4 linked regions of the Homo sapiens genome follow. The protein of the gene in region 1 purifies or fractionates together with the protein of each later gene. This does not show direct contact. Each region holds a gene or a part of one and is shown in the gene's direction. Other genes may lie near its edges.

What was found.
Region 2: the proteins of OR10A4 (region 1) and KIAA1549 purify together in Homo sapiens (affinity purification with mass spectrometry; one large-scale study listed by BioGRID and IntAct). This does not show direct contact.
Region 3: the proteins of OR10A4 (region 1) and LRRC52 purify together in Homo sapiens (affinity purification with mass spectrometry; one large-scale study listed by BioGRID and IntAct). This does not show direct contact.
Region 4: the proteins of OR10A4 (region 1) and GADL1 purify together in Homo sapiens (affinity purification with mass spectrometry; one large-scale study listed by BioGRID and IntAct). This does not show direct contact.

The regions. Positions count from the first base shown.
Region 1 is NC_000011.10:6,875,041-6,878,521, forward strand, and holds OR10A4 (olfactory receptor 10A4), read left to right. Parts: upstream 1-1,584; 5' UTR 1,585-1,607; coding exon 1,608-2,555; 3' UTR 2,556-2,579; downstream 2,580-3,481. UniProt on the Homo sapiens protein: Odorant receptor. May be involved in taste perception.
Region 2 is NC_000007.14:138,869,503-138,873,701, reverse strand, and holds part of KIAA1549 (UPF0606 protein KIAA1549), read left to right. Parts: intron 1-2,339; coding exon 2,340-2,545; intron 2,546-3,940; coding exon 3,941-4,164; intron 4,165-4,199. UniProt on the Homo sapiens protein: May play a role in photoreceptor function.
Region 3 is NC_000001.11:165,550,238-165,554,436, forward strand, and holds part of LRRC52 (leucine-rich repeat-containing protein 52 precursor), read left to right. Parts: intron 1-4,199. UniProt on the Homo sapiens protein: Auxiliary protein of the large-conductance, voltage and calcium-activated potassium channel (BK alpha).
Region 4 is NC_000003.12:30,887,968-30,892,166, reverse strand, and holds part of GADL1 (acidic amino acid decarboxylase GADL1), read left to right. Parts: intron 1-4,199. UniProt on the Homo sapiens protein: May catalyze the decarboxylation of L-aspartate, 3-sulfino-L-alanine (cysteine sulfinic acid), and L-cysteate to beta-alanine, hypotaurine and taurine, respectively. Does not exhibit any decarboxylation activity toward glutamate.

The DNA.
Region 1 (3,481 bases):
TCTCCATTGCTCTTATATACCATACTTTCTACTAACATAATTAATTAATTAATTAATTTTTGAGTGGAATTTTGCTCTTGTTGCCCATGCTGGAGTGCAATGGTGTGATCTCGGCTCACCGCAACTTCCGCCTCCCGTGTTCCAGCGATTCTCCTGCCTCAGCCTCCTGAGTAGCTGGGATTACAGGCATGCACCACCACGCCGAGCTAATTTTGTATTTTTAGTAGAGACAGGGTTTCTCTATGTTGGTCAGGCTGGTCTTGAACTCCCGATCTCAGGTGATCAGCCAGCCTCCACCTCCCAAAGAGCTGTGATTACAGGCGTGAGCCTCCGTGCCTGGCTTAACAGAATTTGTTTATAACCTGTCTTCCCTATGATGAGTTTTATGAGGGCAGAGATTTTTGCTTGTTTTATTTACTAATGTATTATCTTCAGTATCTAAAACAGAGCATAGCATACAGAATTATCTTCTGATAATCAATATTTACTGAATTAATTATTTTATTTTAGAGATTGAATAGTAGGGGCTATAGTGAGTTTTGGCAATGAGCTGGATAAGAAGATTTAGAAGATAGGTCTAGCATTATATCAATAATTATAATGGTTAACATTCATGGAACATGTACAGTATAGCAGACAACATGCTAAGTGCTTCAGATTTTATTCCTCCATATGTTTATAGTCATCACAAAGAATTTCAGGGTCCCAATTTTGAAGCTTCGTTATTAATGCAATGATGAAATCTTTTGTTTCCTTTTCATGGGATTTCATATTAGTCACACTTGCATATTTAAGTTGTATTTTATTAACATGTAAAATGTGAGCTTCAAGTTTCTTGAGAGTCAAGACACAAGTCAACCAAGAGAGCTGATGAAAAAGTTCATGCTTAACCCATCTAGATTCTGTCCATGGTTCTGATGCTATCTTGACACATACAACCACTTGGAAAATACTCATCCCTGGGATCAAGATAAGCCACCCTGACTATGTTGTGTGTCTTCTTGTTTACACTGCAATTTTCAGAGTGTAGAAATTGAGATTCTCACAATATAGTGAAACCTTCCTGAGTATGGGCTTCTTGAGATTGAGACACATTCGGATCTCCTCCTCAGGAATCATTTAGTAATTGCTGAATCAGTTTCTTTGATTTTCTCCTTCCTACATTTTTGTTTTGCAAAAAATATACCTGCCTGACCTCACCACTTTTCATTATGTGTCACGACCTCTCTCTTCATAAATGCTTGGCCTGCCTTTCTTAGCACCATTATTGAAGAGAGATAAGGTAGGAGCATGAACATAAAGCTGTGATTTTGCCCATTCTCTACAGAGAACAGAAAAATCAGGACATGTATAGATATATATAGTATGTTAATTAAGTCTGGAAAAGTAGAATTCTTTCCCCAAAAATTGTGAATCTAATGGTCAAATTTGTTTTATTATATTTTGGAGAGTATAGATGTTTGATCCTCAACAACTCTAACAAGGAAAGTAAAGAATGAGGCCACAGGAGGTCCCCTTTATAAGAATATAATAAAGGTATAAATAACATATGAGATTTCTTCTACCTTCCTAGATTTTGAATGCCCAGTGAAGTCCTGGGCAGAAGAATGATGTGGGAAAACTGGACAATTGTCAGTGAATTTGTTCTCGTGAGCTTCTCAGCCCTGTCCACTGAGCTTCAGGCTCTACTGTTTCTCCTTTTCTTGACCATTTACTTGGTTACTTTAATGGGCAATGTCCTCATCATCCTGGTCACTATAGCTGACTCTGCACTACAAAGTCCTATGTACTTCTTCCTCAGAAACTTGTCCTTCCTGGAGATAGGTTTCAACTTGGTCATTGTGCCCAAGATGCTGGGGACCCTGATCATTCAAGACACAACCATCTCCTTCCTTGGATGTGCCACTCAGATGTATTTCTTCTTCTTTTTTGGGGCTGCTGAGTGCTGCCTCCTGGCCACCATGGCATATGACCGCTACGTGGCCATCTGTGACCCCTTGCACTACCCAGTCATCATGGGCCACATATCCTGTGCCCAGCTGGCAGCTGCCTCTTGGTTCTCAGGGTTTTCAGTGGCCACTGTGCAAACCACATGGATTTTCAGTTTCCCTTTTTGTGGCCCCAACAGGGTGAACCACTTCTTCTGTGACAGCCCTCCTGTTATTGCACTGGTCTGTGCTGACACCTCTGTGTTTGAACTGGAGGCTCTGACAGCCACTGTCCTATTCATTCTCTTTCCTTTCTTGCTGATCCTGGGATCCTATGTCCGCATCCTCTCCACTATCTTCAGGATGCCGTCAGCTGAGGGGAAACATCAGGCATTCTCCACCTGTTCCGCCCACCTCTTGGTTGTCTCTCTCTTCTATAGCACTGCCATCCTCACGTATTTCCGACCCCAATCCAGTGCCTCTTCTGAGAGCAAGAAGCTGCTGTCACTCTCTTCCACAGTGGTGACTCCCATGTTGAACCCCATCATCTACAGCTCAAGGAATAAAGAAGTGAAGGCTGCACTGAAGCGGCTTATCCACAGGACCCTGGGCTCTCAGAAACTATGATTGGCTTAGATGGAAACTGAAGGGGTAAAATGTAAGTACACACACAAAAAATAGAAAAATGAATTCCTCAAGTGGATTTTGTGTTTCTACTCTTTCCAGGTGACACGGTATGCCTACTGAAATTTTTTACTTTCTACTAAGACCTATTTCTGAAAGAAAGAACATGAGTAATGTGCTACCTGACTTCAAACTATACTACAAGGCTACAGTAACCAAAACAGCATGGTACTGGTACAAAAACAGACATATAGACCAATGGAACACAACAGAGCCCTCAGAAATAATACCACACATCTACAACCATATGATCTTTCACAAACCTGACAAAAACAAGAAATGGGGAAAGGATTCCCTATTTAATAAATGGTGCTGGGAAATCTGGCTAGCCATATGTAGAAAGCTGAAACTGGATCCCTTCCTTATACCTTATACAAAAATTAATTCAAGATGGATTAAAGACTTACATGTTAGACCTAAAACCATAAAAACCCTAGAAGAAAACCTAGGCAATACCATTCAGGACATAGGCATGGGCAAGGACTTCATGTCTAAAACACCAAAAGCAATGGCAACAAAAGCCAAAATTGACAAATGGGATCTAATTAAACTAAAGAGCTTCTGCACAGCTAAAGAAACTACCATCAGAGTGAACAGGCAACCTACAGAATGAAAGAAAATTTTTGCAATCTACTCATCTGACAAAGGGCTAATATCCAGAATCCACAAAGAACTCAAAAAAATTTACAAGAAAAAAACAAACAACCCCATCAACAAGTGGGCGAAGGATATGAACAGACACTTCTCAAAAGAAGACATTTATGCAGCCAACAGACACATGAAAAAATGCTCATCATCACTGGCCATCAGAGAAACGCAAATCAAAACCACAATGAGATACCATCTCACACCAGTTAGAATGGTGATCA
Region 2 (4,199 bases), on another chromosome or scaffold:
GCCGGGCTCTGGACAGGAGCCCAGTCTTAGGCTGCTGCTCCAGTGGTACCCAGGCAGGGCTGACAGCCCAGTAGGGAGGGGCCTTTTTTTTTTTTTTTTTTTAATGCCTGTCACCTTTGTCTCCCAGCAACCCAGAAGTCTCTGCCACCCTGGAGGAAAGTGATCCCACTTCTAGGTATCAGTAGCTTAATGGGCTACCCTCTGTGACATTTATTGTTACTCTATAAGTCTGGGTTAAGCAGGGCTAGCCTGTCTGGAGAAGCTCATGATCTCCTTTTAGGCATTATGCCTGCAACTTGAGTAGCTGCCACCGATGAATGGTGGTGCCTGGCTGTGCTTCCATTGCACAAATGCACAAATAGTCAGGTTCCTTCTAGGTATGGGGCCAAGAAAGAAAGCTTGAGCATAGCTGGAGTCCAGACAATGGTGTCCTCTGGCTCAGACAGACATCATTCATTCAGAATCAGCCAAATGACTTCTGATTGCTTGGGATAATGAATGTAATTCAAATTGAGAGAAAATACAGATTTACATAGCAATGCTGTGCTTTCCTTATATGAAACATCAACTACTGCTTCTTACTGCTTTGCTCATCTATGTTTTTTACACCGAGGAGAGACCTTTGTGTTTTTCACTTATGCTTTGAAGTTTCAAATGTTAGGCTTTTGTTTAGAAGCACTTTCTGCATGTGCGTATTCCCTCTGTCAGCCTGCTGGCCATTTATTTGAAAGCAACATCCAGAAGTGACTGGCTGATTAGAAGAAGGGCATCAGTTGATCTTTTTTTGGCGGGGGTTGGGGGACAGGGTCTCACTCTGTCACCCAGGCTGGAATGTAGAGACATGATCTCGGCTCACTGCACCCTCTACCTCCTGGGCTTAAGGGATCCTCCCACCTCAGCCTTCTGAGTGACTAGGACTACAGGCATGTGCCACCACGCCCAACTAATTAAAAAAAATTGTAGAGACAAGGTCTTAACTATGTTGCCCAGGCTGGTCTCAAACTCCTGGGCTCAAGCAATCCTCTTGCCTCAGCCTCTCAAAGTGCTGGGATGACAGGCATGAGCCATTGTGCCTGGCCAGTTGATCTTCTTAAGTGTGAGTAACTAGCTCTTTCTACTCAGCCCGTCTTCATTTTTCTCTTTCTCTTTTTTCAAAATTAAAGTGTATTGGGATTATCTCTACTGTAAAAATAATACTTATTACAGAAAATCCTCATTATCAAAAATAAAAGACATGGGGAAAAATCACCCATCATGTGAAGATTCAGTCTCTGTTAATATTTTTAAGTGTTTCTTTTCTGTCTTTTTTTTTGTGCATTTGAATTTCTTTTTTTTTTTTTTCACAGTTCTGATTAGTTTTTAAGAAAATTATTGTGGTTGAATATACATGGCCTAAAATTTGCCATGTAACCATTTATACATGTACTCTTCAACTGTTTTTAAAGTAGGAACTAGCGCCGGGCCCGGTGGCTCCTGCCTGTAATCCCAGCACTTTGGGAGGCCGAGGCAGGTGGATCACTTGAGGTCAGGAGTTCAAGACCAACTTGGACAATATCGTGAAACCTTGTCTCTACTAAAAGTATTAATACAAAAGTTAGCTAGGCATGGTGGCATGCTCCTGTAATTCCAGCTACTCAGGAGGCTGAGGCAGGAGAATCACTATCCAGCCTAGGCGAGAGAGTGAGACTCCGTCTCAAAAAAATAAAAAATAAATTAAAAAAATAAATAAAGTAGGAACTAATTCCCTGCAAGCAACAGGTTTTTTCTTCTCATGTGTCTTCAACTTCGTTTTCTTTCCACATCAGAACTGAAAAGTCAGAAGTGTGGTCACTGTTAACTGGTACCTGCCTGCACGTACTGGTCTTCTGTTTTCTCTGTAGTACGACATTGCCTTGGCAGCTGAATTTGTATCACTCCAGCGAGCTCCCTGCCAGATGGTAGCAATAGTTCAGAGCCGCTATAAATGTGTTTTCTGAGAGTTCTGTGAATGGCTTATTGACTACTGAGCAACTTCAGGCTCCTTCTGTCCTATATTCTTTCTGAATGAAGATTTTGAACCACAGACAAAACAGTGCAGTTTTTCACACAGTATCATAATGATTTCCTCACGTCTCTTCTTAGGGTACTTGTAATTTTTAATGAAGTTAGAGGATACAGTATATAGCCCAGACTATTTAAGCTCAGAGAGTGAAATTGTAAACACTCTGCTACTGCAGTGGGGATGTATTTTTGGTCAGAGGCCCATCCAAAGATTCTTTAAAGAATAATTCACAATTTTGATTAGTTGCTGTTTCTTTAGATGACTTCGTGTATGTGTTTTGCTTTTCCTTCTGTTCCAGGGCCACCACTGCCCAGTTCGGGAAATGAGCAGCACTCATCAGCCTCCATCTTCGAGCACGTGGACAGGATCTCCCGCCCCCCGGAGGCTAGCCGGCGGGTCCCCAGTAAGATCCAGCTTATCGCCATGCAGCCGATCCCGGCACCTCCCGTCCAGCGCCCCTCCCCAGCCGACCGAGTGGCGGAAAGCAATAAAATCAACAAAGAGGTATTTGCTTTTATTTAAAAGTCTGTTACTTAAAAAACTCGGCTAAGCCCGGTGGCTTATGCCTGTAATCCCAGCACTTGGGGGGGCCAAGGCAGGCAGATCGCCTGAGGTCGGGAGTTTGAGACCAGCCTGGCCAACATGGTGAAACGCCATCTCTACTAAAAATACAAAATTAGCTGGGCGTGGTGGCGGGTTCCTGTAATCCCAGCTGCTCAGGAGGCTGAGGCAGGAGAATCACTTGAACCCGGGAGGGGGAGTTTGCACTGAGCCGGGATCTCGCCACTGCACTCCAGCCTGGTTGACAGAGTGAGACTCCATCTCAAAACAAAAACAAAAACAAAAAAAACTCACACACTTATTGGGTCTGTGTTTGAAAATGAGTGCAAGGTACAGTGTCAACTAGTTACTGAAGGCATAAGCTGCTGACAAGGATTCTTAATGTAAAACATCACGCTTGTTGGAGATCAGATACTGTGCATGGACACTCTGGGGCGCATTGGCAGACATGCAGAAAAGTGTTAGTGCGGCCGACCAGGGGCTGCCCTCCTCAGAAAGAGCCACTTCAGCTTCTGATCCTCCTCACGCTTCAACGCAGTTCAGGTTTCCGTCTTTGGGGATACCACTCTGGGGGCAGGGGGTCTCATGTCAGGTAACTTGTTTTGGTGACACTAGGTAATTATCCTCTTTATATCTGTCAGTCCTATTTATTAAAGATCTCTAAAGGAGGAAAATATTCTTTTCTGGTTATCAGATGTCTCTTTAAAGTTGTCATTGGCCGATTTCCAAGGTTCGAGTGACTTTTTTTCCCTGCTTTGGGGGATGGTGACAAGACTCCAGTGCACCACACAGTGCTTGAGGGTAAAGCTCGTGGGATGGCAGGGTCTCTGCTCCTCCCTGGTCTGTGCCTGTCGCTCTCTCGGTGACTCCGTGGAGCTTACAGACAGCAAGTTAAGTGTGGGCCAGAGGAGAGGAGCATAGCAGGAAGGCGCTCCTAGAAGGCTTTGCTGGCTGGGCATGGTGGCTCACACCTGTAATCCCAGCACTTTGGGAGCTTGATGTGGGCGTATCATTTCAGGTCAGGAGTTCGAGACCAGCCTGGCCAACATAGAGAAACCCCATCTCTACTAAAAGTACAAAAAATGAACTGGGCATGATGGTGCGTGTCTGTAATCCCAGCTACTCGGCAGGCTGAGACAGGAGAATCACTTGAACCCGGGAAGTGGAGGTTGCAGCGAGCTGAGATCATGCCATTGCACTCCAGCCTGGGCAACAGAGTGAGACTCTGTCTCAAATAAATAAATAAACATAAAAATAAATAAAGACTTTGCGAAGTGTGTGTCCCAGAAGCTTCCCGGGACCTCTATGGCTGTCTTTCTCTCCCTCACCCTTCCTCAGATTCAGACCGCGCTGCGGCACAAGTCTGAGATCGAGCACCATCGCAACAAGATCCGCCTGCGCGCCAAGCGCCGCGGGCACTACGAGTTCCCGGTGGTAGACGACCTGTCCTCGGGCGACACTAAGGAGCGACACCGGGTGTACCGCAGGGCACAGATGCAGATCGACAAGATCCTGGACCCCACGGCCAGCGTGCCCTCCGTGTTCATAGAGCCCAGGAAGAGGTGGGCTGGGGCTCTGCGCTAGGCGGTGGGGCGGG
Region 3 (4,199 bases), on another chromosome or scaffold:
AACTCACTCAAACTCTAAGCTCCAAAACATACAAAACCTAGCCTCATACATCCCATTCCCCTCTACCCGCAAAGTCTGCTCTAATGCTGTCCAATAGAAGTTTCTGCAACAGGGTAAATAGTCTATATATATGGTGTCGGATACAGTAGTCACTAGCCGCATGTGGCCATTGAGCTCTTGAAATTTGGCTAGAACAAATGAACTGAATTTTTATTTTATTTTATTTCAATACATTTAAATAGCCACCTAAGGCTACTGGCTACCATACTGGTTAGGGTAGCCTTTTAACATAGGATGTTTAAGCTGGAACTTTAGAATCCAGAGTCACAGGTAAGTGGCTATAGAGAAAAGCCCAGCACAGAGATATCCTGACATCCAAGTTCAATGTTTTTCCCTGATGCCATGATATTTCTTTGCTGTCAAGCACATCATGATCCATTTAACTCTGAAACATTTATTGTATATTCATTATGTCCCCAACATTGCATTATAATGCTGGGGTGGCTGTTTCACCGAGAAAAAAAGTCATAATTTTTGTCTTGAATAAGATAATCTAGGATACGAGAAACAGAAAATAGAATTGAAAGCCAGGAAGCCCTGTCTTGATCCCAGAAATGCCACTGTGTGATATGGGGAAACTCACTTTCCTTCTTCAAGAGTCACTTTTCTTGTCCTTAAAATAAAGGATTTGGGTTAGAGATCCTCAAAGGCCTCCTATAGCTGGTAGCCTATGGACCTAAATAGAAAGATAAGCACACAGGAGGTGAGAGGAGAACAGCGCTCAGCAGGCAAGGTCCCAGGTGAGCAAGTGCAGAGTGGCAAGTGCTGAGGCGAAGGTGTTCCCAGTGATGAGGGCTACATCACATAATTAGGAAGTTCATTTAAGAAACAGATGCCTCTAACTCCTGTACTCTCCCACCTCCTATATTAAGCACCCTCAACTTCACTAAAACAATGCCTCCACCCCAAGAAACTCATTGCCCCAGACTTTCCTCCCAGGCCAGACCTGCTCAAACAGTGCTTCTCAAACTCTAATGAGCACAAGAATCCCAGGTCCTATGCCCTGAGGTTCTGATTCAGTCAACTCTTCATGCCGGTTGTCCTTAGGCCACTTTTCAGAAACCCTAGAACAGTGGCCTGTGTTCTGGACCTTCAGTGGCTGTTCCAATTAGTAAATGAATCGATTTGCTCTGAGATGCTAATGGCTAGTGTTTTGAAATATCCCCTCAGGGAGCATTTGCAATTTGACAGGGAACAACCAGAAACAGTGAGAATTCAGAAAGTGACAGGCTACCAGGGGCTAGAGTGGGGCGGTTTGAGGACAGAGAGTCCCCTCTGTGTCAGCTCTGATAGCCTTAGCCAGTACTAAATGAGCCTGATGGTGGGGCCCACACATCAGAGGAGCTTGAGCAAGGGTGCTGCAGAGGCAGTGGACAAAGCCACTCAGGGCCATCTGCAGGGAGCAGATGGGTTGAGTCATGTGCTGCTTCAGGTCCAAGTCATTTTGAGGGCGTTTTGAGCAGAGAACATCTTAGTTTCATTACGAGGTTATATCATCCTGTATTCAAGACTGTTGTAATGGGATAATGGCCCCATTTCTACCTACCAAGTACAAAGTCATCCACAACTGTGCCCAAACTTAGATTTCCGGAATGAATTCAGGTCCTCACGTTATTCCACTATCAATGCTTACCCATGTCCTCCATCAGGGAAATTAAAATAAAGACCAAAGGCTAAAAAAGAAAAAAAAAAAAAAAAGGCTGGGCAACCAGCAGCTCCAAGGCTTCCAAGGCTGTTGAAAGCCAGAACAGCAGCCTCCTGAGGGCAAGGAGGGGGCTGAGAGGGGTGCAACTGAGTCAGTGATCCCTAAGCCACCCAGAAAATCCAAGAAGGGATAGGAGCAGCAAGCATGGGACATTTAGGAACCCCTGGGTGATGCTGACACACTCCCTGACTCAGGCCAATTGGGATCCCTGAGAGTAGGTGATCGAAGGTTACTCCAAGCTCAGAAATGCCAGATTTCTACACCTGGCCCCTCAGGTCACCCAGCATCACTCAGGACTCTGAAAAACAGCAGTTCAAGTCTGGCTAAAGCAGCCAACCTCAGTTTGCTCATCTTTAAAGGTGAAGAGCTCCTCATCCTGGAGGTAATCCTACAAAGGATGGATGTGGCTAGAGAAAAGAATGGGGGCCCAGCTAGGAAGGGCCTTGAATGGTTTTCTGGGGAACATGCAATATATCCTAAGAAGTCTTGGGAGGCAAGTGAGCTGGAGGTAAGGCTAGGAAGGAAGCTCCCGTAGGCGTTCAAGCCAGACAGTATGGCAGCCTATGGCAACAGTGAGGAGGAGAGGTGTAGACATTTGAGAAGGAATCATTTAGAAGGCAGAAGCAACAGGATTTGGGACTGAACTAGCTCCTCTCATAGTTTCTTGTGCACCCTTTGTAACTTCTGGCACAATTCTAATTAATAAATGTGTATTCATTTAACATTTGTCTTCCCTGATAGACCGGAAGCTCTATGACAGCAGATCTGGATCTTCGGAAACAAGCACAGGCCTGACACAGAGAAAATGCTCAACTAGTGTTTCCTGAGTGAATGAATGAGATACAGAAAATATAGAAAAGGGAAAAATCAATGGTAGCTCCCAAGACTTTGGCTTGGACAGTGTGGGGGCTTTGCTGACATAAACACACTTGGAGGAGGGCAGTGAGGAAGTCAGGCTAGAAGTCAAGTCCCATCTTGACCTTACTGAGTGGGAAGTCCCTGTAAAACACTAGGCATTTGTATGTTCTGACCTGAAATTCAGAATAGAGGACAGGGCATAAAATATACATATATTTGGGGATCATCAACTTACTAGTGATCACTGAAACCTAACAGAAGATGAGATCAATCAGGAAAAAGAGTTTCAAGTGAGGATAATAAGGGCCAAGTACAGAAGCTTTGGGGAATGCAACATACTAAAGGGTCAAGTAAGAAAGAGCAACTCATGTAGGACAGCAGGAGCCCCCAGACAAAGGAAATTAGAACAGGATAAATTCATGGAAGCCAAAGAGTTCCAAAAAGTGGGAGCAGGTCAGATAAGGACAGAAAACTGTCCATCAGATTTAGCACCAGGGATCCCTGATGTCTTGGGCAGTTCTGCTGGCATGATGAGAGTGAACACCAATCCATAATGGGCTATGAACTGAACATAAAAGGTGTGAAGGAGTAAACCATGTAAACTACTCTTCTAGAAAGCATGGCTGTGGACTGAAGGGAATAGGGTGCTAGTTGGAGAGAAAACAAATGAAGAAGGAGGATTTTTAGGAGAAAAGAGATCCAACCATGTGTTTATCTGCTGATGGAAAGAGTCGATGCAGAGAAAAAGGACAAAGATACAAGAAAGAGGGGAAGTCATTGGTGGGGTAAAGTCCCTGAGAGGACAGAAATGGATGGATGATCTCCAAGGGGTAATCCTTGAAAGGGGAGTGGCACCCCCTCTGCCCTCTGGGACTGCAGAGAAGGAGGCGAGGGTAAACATAGATGGGGGTGACTGTAATAACAGGGGACAAATACAATTGAGGGGCCCAATTGGTGCCTGTATTTCTCTTTCAGTGAGGTGAAAGACAAAAAATGACTATATATCTATAAAGTACACATTTTCATGTAATGTTTTCTATGAAGCTTCCATAACACCAATCCAATTAGGCGACTATAAAATATCCATTGTCCTTGAGATGCTCACATCCTAGTTGAGCAGGCAACACCAAGGTGGGCTGTGGATGCAGGCCACCTGTCATTTCATCCTGCCTCTGTCACTTGCCGACTACTTGACTGTGGGCAACAATCTCCATCCAACCCAAGTCCTCATGTGCAAAATGCAGATAAAATAGTGCCTATTTCCTCAAGTTGTGATAATTAAATGAAAAAACCCACATGAAGATTTTAGAACTGCACACAGTACATGTTCAATTAATGCTAGCTGTCGTTGTTGTTACAAATTCTTTGCCTGGCAGTGATTCTGAGTGTCACACGAGATGCAGAGGACGGGTAAAGCAATGTGGGTTTGCAGAAACAAACAGGGTGAGCAGAGGCAAGGAGTTCAACTTGGGGGAGCCAGAGCTCTTGAGGGGGACGTTAAAGCTTCCAAGATGATGTCATAAAAAACACCTAATCTGCTGCATGACCCATATGCAATGATAGGTGGTTGTTGTTG
Region 4 (4,199 bases), on another chromosome or scaffold:
CAAGAGAGGTTTAAGCAATTAGTTATATCAGATTCAAATTTTCATTATATTAAAAATGAATGATTCTTCAGACTCAAATAATGTTTTTTCTCTATCACTTGAAATAATAGCACAACTTTCCATTCTTCCTGAATAGCTTTGATTCTTGTTAAAACATGTTTAAAAGAGAAGTAAAACTCTAGTTTTCATGGTGGGTCAAAAATTTGTTGTTGAAATGCTGGCTTTTATATACCATTATAAGACTGGCATGTTGTAATAAAATTGAAATCATGACATTTGGGACCAAAATTTCTGTATTTTTTTTTTACCCCACTCTAGATTTTCTCTTTTTCTCTGTGACTTTTTCATTTTTTGTTTATTTCTTATCATTTAAATGAAACCCCCAACAGGCAAAATTCATCACTGGGTGCATGGTCCCTACTATTGCTGTGCCGAACTACAAATACCATCTTATGTAACCTTCGTTAACAAGTCAATGGGGATACTATTATGATCTGCTTTTTATTTTTTTTTTTATTTTAAGGAAACCAAGTCTTGGAGAGGGTAAAGATCAGCTCTGGGCGTTAAACCCAGGGCTCTCACTCCAGAGTCCCGCACCCCTACACTCCTAACACCTAATCCCTGGCCCTGGCCTATGTTACAGAATATGGGCCAGTGACCTGGAACAGCCTCCTTTGCCTGCCTCTGCTGGGACCACAGGAAGAATGCTGGAGAAGACCCTGAGATGTGTGTGGCTTTAAGTTCCTTGAAATGACAGTAGCATTGTTTCCTCTTTGAGTGGGAAGGATGGGGAGAAAAGCTGTCAGTTTTGGGAGGTTCGCACTCATGGTAGGGCTGGATGTGGCAGTCCTGAGGAGGCAGCTCACTGCCCCTCTCTCAGGGGCATGTATATGTGCTCTGCTGTTTGGTTGCTAAGGATCAAAGCAGCTTGGCTCTGAGGGAAAAGGGCAGCATCCCAAGGGATGAACTCTCTATAACAGCCCTTCTCTTGGGGTAGGTTTACTGATTCTGTTCCTCTCAGATCATGACAGATGAATCCATTTTATAAGGCAGTACCCTGGGAGCAGGCAGACTCACCACAGCTGTTCTCTTGTTGGTAACCACAGGAAGGAAGGAAGGAAGGAAGGAAGGAAGAATGCAAAGTAAATACTCTAGCCGACAGCCTGTTCAGATTGGGTCTCTGGATACCAGATTTAACCTCTGTGAGCCTCAGTTTGTTAATTTGTAAGGTAGGGATAAAAATATCTACTGTTTAGGATTATCATGAAGATTAGGAATAATATGCACAATGCATGGCAGGTAGTAGGTTATAGACTTATTATGTTCAGAAAATTGTATGTGAAAGTTAATGAGGTTATTGAAATGTGTTAAGCACCATGTGATTTTACAGGAAGAGCCCATGGTGATGTTCACTCAACTCCACAATGCTACCAAGCACAATCTCATATTCACCTATTGATGAAGAATATCCACTAGCTGCATGATTACCCCACACTCTATACATTTGGTCTGCTGCTGAGTCTTTGTAATTTGGGCTTTCAGTTTTAGGAAAGAATGAGTAGTTAATTTACATATTAAAACAGGAGAATGAATTAAGAGTCCAGGTGATTCATAGGGAGGCGATTTTCAGAAAGGATTTTGGTCACTGGCATAATGGAGTTACCACCACAGATGTTTCAAGATTTTTATCTCTGTTCACTGGTTTTTCTAATGTGTTTGGTAAAGGCTGTATTGCCCATATCATCATTCTTTTTTACATGCTTGTAATTCTATATATCTATTTCTTCCCTGATGTCTATGAGGGTATGGAACACATCTGTCTATTTACTGCATCCCCAGCATCTAGCAAAGTGCCTGGCACATAATAGGTACATATATTTAACATGTGTTTGTTCAGTAAACTCATACATGAATGATTTAGAGTGACAAGAATCATGACAATGCATGATTCCCGAAATCTTAAGTTCTTTTCATTTTTGCATTTAAATCTTAAGTTTATATTCACCTTTGCCTCCTTGAAGCTGTTTGTAATAGTAAAAATTAGTAACCATTTACATATCAAACAAAGAGGCATTGTTTGGAACATCTAAATATCTAATAGCTGGATGGCTAAAATAAATTATGGTAGAGTATAGAATACTATGTGAATGCATTTCATGTTTGGACAATGACTACACATTGCAAGAGGTTCTAGGTGGCTAGATAGCAAAGAATAGGTGTTGTCTCTAGGTAGATGGGATTGTGAATATTCCTTAAATTCTTTTGATTATATTTCTGATTCTTATGTAGGAATTTGCATTGCTTTTACAAGGAGGGAATGCAGTATAAGAAATATAAACTATGTATATTATAAGATCACTTATACTGTACCACCTGTCACTGGGCACTTAAGGTTGTCTTCTCAGCTAATTTTCTAAATTTGCCCTCCTCTAACTCTTTTTGAACATTTCAGTAGTTTCCAACCTCTCAGCATTCCAAAATTGCATAATTGAGTTAAAAGAGATGCGTGATTTAAAAAGAAACTCAAAGTAGGAAAAAAAAAGTTAACTGGAATCCAGTGACTAAGAATATTAATTTTTCAGCATGTTGCCACGTTAAATACATTGCTTTGCTGTAAGTCATGGTTAACTTTTGGTCTCATTTCTGCTTTTGGCTTTTGCTTTGTTATGTATACATTTTCTGACAGTTCACGAATACCTCCTGTGTAAGTGTTCCCTAATTGTTTTGCACGTGTGCTTGAGGTGTTTGCAAGGTGGCCACCATTGAATATCATTTCTTTGTCTGCAAAGGCAGCTCCAGGAACGAGAAACTTTGTAAAGTAAGATGGCTTCTGATATGGTTTGGCTGTGTCCCCACCCAAATCTCATCTTGAATTGTAGTTCCCATAATCCACACATCATGGGAGGGACTCAGTGGTTTTATAAAGGGCAGTTCCACTGCACACGCTGTCTTGCCTCCCACCATGTAAAACATGCCTTTGGTCTTCCTTTGCCTCCCGCCATGATTGTAAGGCTTCCCCAGCCATGTGGAACTGTGAGTCCATTAATCCTCTTTTTTTTTTTTTTTTTTTTTTTTTTTTTTTATAGATTACCGAGTCTTCGGTATTTCTTCATAGCAGTATGAAAATGTACTAATACAACTTTTCTCTGTTTTTAAATTAACATTTGCGAATAGAGGTATGAATGAGTAAACTTTTAATATTATACATTTATATATATTGCAAAAATTTTACTGTTGGTTCCGCACTGTTTCTGGGAACATATGACATTGTTTTCTTTCTAACATCTGGTTGCCTCTTTGGTTTTCTGACAGAAGTGGAATTCAGGGTCCCTTTTTCCAGGATCCACCAGCCACATTACTTTTCATGTAGGGAACTCTTTTTCAGTCTTAAAGGAAAGCCCTACTTCATTTTTAATATCTTCCCTCATAGGCACTCTGATAAACTTGTTGAGTGCCCTTGAGACTGTCTCCTTGTTGTTATGCAGCCCTAATATACTCCTTCTCTTGAAGAAAGAATAAGAAGTTCTAATGAGAAGTCCTAATCTCTTGATTTGAAGGCAGTACCCCTATTGCGTCCCACTTGGGGATAATAGGTATGGAATGGGAAAAATCCTGAAAAAAATGTCTCAGAATCTGTCCCTACTAAATCTGCTGCTGACACTCAGGGATTTTGGAACACCCCTCTTCTCTCTCCTTCCCACTTGGCTTTCACTATGAGCTTCTGAGGATTCCTGAGGGTCTCCGCAACTCCACGATGGTGATTCTGTTTTCTGTTTATTAAACTTTTTTGAATTATGAGGTATGCACACATAGAACACCCAAATATTATTTTGTACACTCGTAACCACCACCCAGATGAGGAAATATAATTTTGCCATTGTCTAAGAAGGCTCTTCTATGTGCCCCATTCCCAGAGCTCTTTTCTCCCCTATAAGTAACCAGCATCCTGATTTTGATAGTACAGTTGGCCCTTCCTAGCTGCAGTTTCTGCATCTGCATATTTAACAAACTGCAGAAGGAAAATATTTTAAAAAAATAGAAATAAAAAACAAAAAATAACGCAAAAACAATACAGTATAACAACTACTTACATAACACTTACATCGTATTAGGTGTTATAAATAATCTTGAGATGATTTACAATATACAGGAGGATGTGCTTAGGTTATATGCAAATATTATACCCTTTCACGTAAGGG